Linked DNA regions of Homo sapiens: region 1 is linked to region 2. Evidence: fine-mapped expression QTL. A gene starts in region 2. The other region holds a variant in brackets. All regions are shown on one strand. Distances are from middle to middle.

The links. PIP is the estimated chance that this variant, and not a neighbour inherited with it, causes the effect. A credible set is the group of variants that fine-mapping cannot tell apart.
Region 1: its variant is the best candidate, but not a certain one, in a credible set for the expression of POLK in left ventricle (GTEx, PIP 0.76).

What each region holds. Positions count from the first base shown.
Region 1 is chr5:75,621,225-75,625,623 of GRCh38, forward strand. The region is part of intron 3 of ANKDD1B (ankyrin repeat and death domain containing 1B); the gene reads left to right. Among named protein-coding and RNA genes, the nearest start is that of ANKDD1B, 12 kb to the left of the region's middle. The variant T/C (reference allele first, on the strand shown) is at 1,964.
Region 2 is chr5:75,509,638-75,514,036 of GRCh38, forward strand. POLK (DNA polymerase kappa) reads left to right here and starts at 2,254. Exons shown (of 15, transcript NM_016218.6): 1 at 2,254-2,277. CERT1 (ceramide transporter 1) reads right to left here and starts at 1,992. Exons shown (of 17, transcript NM_001379029.1): 1 at 1,475-1,992. The coding sequence starts at 1,570. RefSeq lists enhancers at 1,349-1,418, 2,169-2,548.

The sequences.
Region 1 (4,399 bases), 110 kb after region 2:
TCTATAGGAGCTCCCTTCTCCTCTTTAGACCAGAATGAGAGAGCTTCTCTTGGAAATCTTTCTGACTGTGCCCAGGGCACAGTTCCATGATTTGCACTGCCTTGAGTCCAAGTTGGAAGGTATGGAAGGAAAAGAAAAATCAGGAAAGTCACTGCAGGATTGTCCTTACTTTGAGTTCTGATTTTTTCCCCAATCCACCTGATACCATTTACAGAGTCCTCAGCTGTTCCATGCATTCTTTTTTTTTTTAATTTTAATTTAAAATTTGTGTGGGTATATAGTAAGTGTACGTTCCATGCATTCTTTCCAGAGATTTTATTTGTTTTGGTGGCAGAGACAGAGTGGACTGTGCTTACTTCGTTTTAACAAAAACCATAACCCCAAATCTCTAACATACCAAAGTAGCGGGAATCATACAGCAAACACCTATGTATCCATTGCCCATATTAGATTGCATCTTTTCTTTTAAACAGAATATCTGAGGATTGCCATGTTTCTAATATGTTAAATACAGGACTGGTTTGTGTCAGAGTGCAAATCAATTATTCCTGAAATGATGGAGAGATATTTCACCAACTTGTTCTCCTTGAGGTTTTTCTAAACATCTATTTGTATTACCTTGTCTCTGAAGCATGACTATTTCTCTTAACTTTGCCTGAAGATTGAAATAATGTCAGGTGGGAAATATAGTAATTCCTGGTGTGTCTCTTTTTCCTGCTTTGAAGGTTTCACTAAGTTAAATATATTTATAACTAATTAAATCATCTACAGTGGCATTACTCTGTAACTAGTAAAATGTTTTTCATAATTCAACCAAGGTCATGTTTGACCCAATCTGGCAGCTTCTTTATCTGAATGGTGAGCCTTGAGTTTGACTTCTTCTAAGTTCTAACACCATTTGCAAAGAGCCAACAGTTGATCCCCTTCACCATCAATATTTATTCAGTGGCTGTTGTGCATATGTCTCAGTGTCAACTACTGAGGATTCAATTAGACAGAAGTCATTGCTATTTAAAGTGTAGTCCCAGGACTTGAAGCATGCACATCACCTGCAAGCTTGTTAGAAATGCAGGATCTCAGGCCCCACCCCAGGCCTTAATCAGAATCTGCATTTTTAAAAAATTCCTAGGTGATTGTTTTTGGGAAGCACTGGTATGAAATAGAGTCATGGCTTTGCAGGGCCTACAGTCTATCTGGGGAGCAAGGACAGAGACTGTACCAGCTGAGTACCATTCAAGGCACTGCATGCTAGGGACCAAAGTGAGCAGCAACCCCGAGTCCTGGGAAGAGGCAGACTGGATAAATGGAGGCTCTTACTCCAGACAGGTGTAAAGAATCCCAGGTGGGTGCAAGTGGTGCTCAGAGGATAAAAACATCTGCTGACAAAGCTTCTTACCTCTGGGAAGCTCCTAACATGGAAGTGTTCCCCAGAGGAAATTATTGGCCTCACCTATGACGAGACTGGCAATGAGGACAGGTTATCAGTGACTATTGAGCAATGTACACTTTACAGAGCTTCGTGAGCCAACTGTGAGTGTAATTTGTGACACATGGTCTTAAGTAGTCTCAGGCATGCCAGTTTTATATCAGAAGAATTTCTTTTATGGAGGTTCTTCTCGGGGAGTTTACACCTGTGAGCGGTGATTCATTGCCTCTGAGGAACAATGGCTCCACTCTGAGTTTGTGGTTTTAGAGACTCAAGTTGATTGCAGCTTGAATTCCCAGCTTTTAGATTTTATGATCGGAGCTTCGAATTTTAAAATGTAGGCTGCTTTGAAATTAGGAATTACCTTTTAGGGAAAAATAGATCTCCTATCAAAGAGTGATTTGTCACCTGTCTCAAATATTTCTGGTGGTTTTTTTTTCTTTTTGAGGTGGAGTTTCACTCTTGTTGCTCAGGCTAGAGTACAACGGCGCAATCTTGGCTTGCCGCAACCTCCTCTTCCCAGGTTCAAGCGATCCT[T/C]CCAAGTAGCTGGGATTACAGGCATGCGCCACCATGCCTGGCTAATTTTGTATTTTTAGTAGAGATAGGGTTTCTCCATGTTGGTCAGGTTGGTCTCGAACTCCTGACCACAGGTGATCCGCCCACCTTGGCCTCCCAAAGTGCTGGGATTACAGGCAGGAGCCACCGTGCCTGGCCTTCTGGTCTCTATTTGAAAGCAGATTTAGTATTACTAAATATAGAGCGCTGACTTGTAGGGAACTCCAAATTAAGAGGTGGAATTGTGTTTAGGGAACATGTTTTGAAGAACCTCAAGTAGTCAGTCATTGTTCATCATTTCTCTTTGGAACAAAGAGTCCAGAAATGAAGAGTCTTCTTCATGCTGGAATTGTAAACCTACAAATGGACTAACTCACCGTCTAGAGTGATAGCTGAAATATAAATTTGATAGGATATGCACATTAAGAGTGGGGTTTCTCAACAGTGGTGCTATTGACATTTTGGGCCTGATAATTCTTTGTCGTTGGGGCTGCCCTGTGTATTGTAGGATGTTTAGCAGTGTCCCTGGCCTCTATCCACTAGGTGCCAATATTAACCTCCCCCCACCCACGGCATGACAGTAAAAAATATCTCCATACATTTTTCCAAATGTTTCCTGGGGGCAAAATCACCCCCAGTTGAGAATCACCAGTTTAGAGTTATGCCTCAATAATTTGGGACTTGCTGTTTTACTCTCCCAACATGAATTCTACTGAGAATAAGAGAATACATTAATGCAACTTGGGGGCAGCCAAAATAAATGCCAAAAGGCTTATGTACTTTACAAATAGAAGTGTACTGCAGGCCCTCATTCCTTAGTCATTTACTCATACTGTGTACATCTAACAAACAGTTTCCAGATCACAAACACAACTGATTAGAAAAGGCAAATAAAATGTAGTGTGAGAGCTTCCTTTGGGTAGGCACTTGTACTGAGGAAATGGATTACTTTTTCATGGAGCTAAAGGAAACAGAAAAACAGACACTTGAGTTTGCAGATAAGGAAGCTGAAGCTGAGAGTTAGAACTAAGTTCACCAAGATCCCCGTACTTGAAAGTGATAGAAAGTGACCAGAATTTGAGATTAGTTCTGCTTGATCCTGAAGATCAGGCTCATAGTGTCTGCCCTATCCTGCTTCTGTAACTTAGGGCCCGGGGTGCAGATGCATTTTTTTGCTTATTTCCCTCGAATCTCACCTCCCTAAAATAACCAGTGTTAACTGCTGGCTATGCTTCCTTCCACACTTTTCTCCTTATTTGGTAGACAAGTCAGCATACAACTGCCCACAGCATCCCTACAGGTCACTAAGTCCTGGTCTCTTTCAGTCTCACAACTTTATGCACATGTGTTTGCACACAGACAAATCTAAATAATTTTGTGTAAATAAAATATTTTAAGTAGCATCTATATAAATGAGATCCTCTTTATAACTTGTGTTTTTTTCACCTGTGTGTACCCTCTCCTCCTCTGGTAACCATACTTAACAATCTGAGATATGTGTGTTTATTTCTGTACTTTTCTCCTGCTCACATAGTCATATCTATATTGATCAATCGACCTACCTACCCACCAACCCACCTATAGATAGATATAGATATATACATATACATGTATGGGGTTTTGTTAATCACTCCTTTTTAACAAATGGGATTATATCATATTTATTGTCTATCTTATTTTCCATATTTAGCAAAGCTCATGGAAATGTTTCCAAGTCAATTGTTGTAGCACCAATTCATTATTTTTAATGCTTGCATTATATAGTCTGACTATTCCATAACTTATTTAGCATTCCTATGTTGATAGGCTTTTATCTTGCACTCAGTTTTTAGTGTTACAATTACTATCCTTATATATATAGAATTAGGTACTGACATTTTTATTTTCATGGGATAGATTCCCAGGAGTGGGATTGCTGGTTGTATTTTTAATTCTGATAGATATTGCCAGATACTTAAACAATAATCATTTCCATTTCCTTTCTTTGTCCATTTTTCTGAGTTTGTCTTTTTCTCCTCCATATGTAAGTGTGCTTCATGCATTAGAGAATAACCATTTATCTTTATTAAAGATACATTTTTAAAAATCTGTCATTTTTAATTGACTTTATTATCTATCTGTTCTAACTCTGGATTAAGAGACTATACATTATAGTCTGGATTTTATTCTAATATATTTATTGTTTGTGTGCTATTTTGTGAGTATGGTATGATATAGCTTTTCATTTTATTTTCTTCCAGATGGAGAACCACTTGCCTGTACCACTTATTAAGTATAACCATTTTTCCCCATAGGACCGAAATATCACTTTTGCTGCATATTAAATTCTCTATTTCTTAGTTTTCAACAATCTAGTATTAATTTGGCCTTTGTTGATGAGGCAGTATATGGCTGCAGCTTGTCAGAGTGATAGATTCT
Region 2 (4,399 bases):
AAAAAGTAATTATCAGTAGGTCAAAAGTACAATTTGTTTCGTAAAATACTTAACACATCACAATACTAATATGGCAGTCAGCTTCCCATCTTATGAGCAGTGATGAAACTACCAAAATCACTGAGAAGCAAGTAACCCACTTCCTATTACCAACTGAAAATGTATACCTACTACACAATGTGTTCAATAGAGATTCCTAAATTACAGGATACATTTAATCTAAAGAAATCCTGAGGAGCTTCTCGTTACTGAAAACCTTGCACTGAAATTTCAAGAATGATCACAGCATCAATATACAACATAATTTTGCTGCTATACAAATAAAAGTCAACACTTGCAATCCTTAGTTCTGACTACTCATGCCTTTCCTGGCCCCCTTCTCATTAGCTTTCTAGACATTATAAAAGCCTAATATGAAACAATTCCACAAATAATGTCCAAGTGATTTGCCAAATATGAATACTGGAAACAGGGTGATTTCTTAATAGCCACTGGCTGCACATGACATAGTATCTTATGACCAGCTTGTTGAGGGACTGGCCCAGCTCCCCCTCTCCAAGTTAACTGCTAGCTCCAGCCATGTCTAAAAAAGTTTAACAGGAAGGGAGAGAGAAGTCAAAAAGGCTACGTGAATCTTCTTACAGCAAAAACTTAAAAAAAAAATCCCCACAACTATGTAATATCAAGAGATCATCCACCTGCAGTCCTATAATGACTGCTTTGCTAAAATTTTGATACAGGGATTTTAAAAAATATATAAAAGATAAAACATCTTTTCCTTACCCTCGACCCCTTACCGCAAAAATATTTTATTATTAAGTAATGCTCTTCCTGGACTAAAGATCAGTCTCCATTCTCACATGTTCCAAGTTACTATGAATATTTCCTGTACCCATCATGTGCCGATTCAATATCTCTATTCTGAACTAAGGTACAGGGTGAGGGAGAAAGTCCTCCACATTCATCTGTCTCACTACATCTAACCTAGCAGAATTCAACACCTCAAATTTCAACACCAAGCTGAGTCGCTCCAGCTTCTGTCGAAAGAGTTGCGTCCGCAGTGCCCCCCAACCTACTCGGCTTGGCATCCTCAGAGAGACCAACCTCTTTTAAGAGGTCCGACTTGAACCGCTCCCATGCCCAGTCGTTCGGACACCGCTGAAGCCCAACCCGGATTCCTTACACCCGGGACAGCTGCCGCCCTAAGTCCCAAGTCACGGCGCGCATCTGGCCTCCCAAACTGGATCTCAGGTTTATACACCCTTTCCCTGGTCCTCGGCTGCCCCCGACGAGCCCCCGGGCAACAAGGACAGTGCCCCTATATCCCCGCCTCATCCCTAGTCGCTGCAGCAACACTCAGCCTCGCACCCCGGCACGTTCCGCGCCTCCCGCCAGCCCCACCCCACCGCCTCAGCGGATTGCCTCGCTGCAGGTGAGTCTGGCCAGGGGTCCCTTGGCACCAGGGGTTGCTCACCTTACTGAGGACCCCGCAGCGCTCCACAGGCGGCCCAGACTCCGTCTCTGGATCCTCCTCCGAGCCCGACGAGTTCCAGCTCTGATTATCCGACATGGAGGCTCGACAACCGAGCAGGAGACCGGCCCCCGCTCCCTCAGCTGCGCCGGAGGAGGCGCCCAGTCCTCGGGGTGAAGGGTCGGGGGATGGCGAAGCGAAGAGTGCCCGCTCCGGTGTGGGGGGGAGCAGGAGGAGGGACGAAGTCCGCCCGCCGCGCCGCCGCCGCGCCTGACACCGAGCGGAGCGAGGAAGGAGGACGAGCGGTGAAGGAAGCCTACCCTTCCAGCCGTCAGCCGCCGCCGCCGTCGCCGTGACCCCTGCGTTGCGCCCGGCGCTGCCACCCGAACTTAGCCCCCTCGATGCCAATTTCAAATAGGGAAGGAAAAGGGAAAAGAAGGGAAGAGAAAATCCGGCCGCTGAGTCCCGCGTCCACTCACACCTCCGCTACCGCCGCCATCTTCCTGCCTGGCCCACTATTTACCCTCCCCTCCCCTGTCCTTTCCCCTCCCCTTCGTCCTCCCATTCTCCCCCACTACTCCCCGCCCCGTCCCCCTCCCGGCGTCTGACGCGACACGCCGAGCCTTCGGGATCCTCCTCCCGAACCCTACCTCCGGCTCTCCCGGGTGACGACGGGTAGAAAAGCAGGAGGAGCGGAGAAAGGAGAGGGCGGGGTAGGGATGCAGCTGTGCTGCATTCTGGGAAGGGCGTTGGTCCGTCGCTCGCGCAGCCTCCTGGGAGTTGTAGTCGCGATCCTGAGGTAACGGGTGAGTATCCCGCGCGGGGATCGCTTGTCCCCTTGGGGCCTTGTCAGTCGGTGGGTGGGCTTCGTTTGACAGTTGCGTGACCAGCCCCTCGGCCTCGCTTCTATCCTTGCCTTGTGTGTTTATGACGAACCCTCCGGGCTTGCGGGCCCAGACGTGAGAGAGCTTTCCGCTGAAGATGACGGGCCTGCTTTCCAGGGCGGCTTGTCGAAAGCCCGGGAGCATCTGGCCGCTTCCGCCTCAACCATGGGCTGGGGTTTTGTGAGCTACTAGTGCCAAGGGTTTTCTTTCCACCAGACCACCGCTGTAAATCTCGAGGGTCTTACTCATTAGAAGTTAGAATTCACATTTGACGTTTAAAGGAAGAATTTCCTTAGTACCTTCTCACAAGCACGCACTTCGCATTTTTAGATTTCTAGAGTTTGCTTTGTAGAAAGTAATTTTGAGGTTGTCAGAGAATAAATGACGTTAGAAAGGTTTTTAAAGTAAAACAAGAATGTGAGATGATAGCCTGGGATTTTCTCTTGGTTGTAAATGAATATCTTACTGAGAACCACGTTAACCATGCCTGCCCCTCAAAGATAGGAAAGGTTGGATATATAGAAACTTTCTCGTATTAGAAATACCGAAGTGCAGTGGTTTTGTGTGTACAAGGGATTAGGCAATAGGAGGCTATTTTTGTTTTAAGACTAGGGTTGAATTAGCAGAAAGACCAATAGAAGATCTAACAACTCTTGTCAGTTGTCAAGGATAACTTTGATTATGAGACTTTGACTTTGTAGCTTCAGTAATTTCCTCTCGTTAGCTATTTTAATATAGTCGATTTCCTTGTAATTGCCAAGAGTAAAATTTGTTATTAAACCTTAGAAAGAGTACTTTCTTACTACAAGGATGGGACGATAGGAGCGAAATTTCGAGTCTAAGGGAAAACGCTGGCCGAGTGTGGTGGCTCACGCCTGTAATCCCAGCACTTCGGGAGGCCGAGGTGGGTGGATCACCTGAGGCCGGGAGTTTGAGACCAGCCTGGGCAACAAGGTAAAACCCCGTCTCTACTAAAAATACAAAGATTAGCCGAGCATGGTGGTAGGTGCCTGTAACTCCAGCTCTTTATATCCTGGTTTCAAATCTAGGCTTGATGACCTTCTCCCATATCCCAGTATCATATTTTTTTCTTCCTGCATGGGGGATTAATTACGATTCTGAATGGTTGGTAGCATGAAGCTAGGTTATCCCTATCGTGGCAATGGATATTTAAGTAGGCATTGCCAATATTTATCTTGCTTTCTTTTACTTTCTTCTTTTTCTGACCATCCACACTCCATTTATATTGATGAGTTCTTTTACTAATATCAATTATTATTATATTATGCTCATACTGCCATGTCTTATTCTGCAGCTTTGATCCTTAAGGTGACTTTGCATATCTGTCTAGGACTCCTTTATCTGTTGATTTTTACCATTTAAGTCTCCAAAGACAGCTGTATTTTTGGAAAAGTGGGAGGGAAGAGGTAGATGGGGATACTCATTGATACCTTAATGCACTTCACAGCTGCTTGAGAATATGTCAGATCTCATAAAAAGTTCTAACATTCGAGAATAAGACAGTGATTTCAGAAATGGAATTTCAAAGGGTGTGTAGGCCACCCTTTTTATCCTGTTTCCTATTGTAGAAATGAGAGCCAGGCTAGGAATGTTTCAAGCAGAAATATTCTTACTATTCAATGAAATTGAAAATGTATTCCCATATCTTTTACTCCTATCTGTTTGGTTTATGGGATAAAAACTTGTTAGAGTAGTTGGTATTTCATAGGCTTCACTATAACATTGGAAAATCTTTTAGTCTAAAAAGCACACAGTACGGTACACCAATGAACAGTATTAGTGCCCACTCTTGGCATGTACACATGTTCTTTCTGTCGTTTTTATTTTGCTTAGCTTTTGAGTCTCTTCCTGTTACTGTGAGAAATTCTTTTATTAATATTTTAAAGGCATACTATATAAAGCAGTGTGGTGGTATATTAGGTATCAGTAGAATCCTCTTGATAGTTATTTAGTAAACGTGTTTTGCTTCCTGTTTTTTTCTAACCTTTTTATTGTTTCACTTCTACTATAATTTCACATCCTT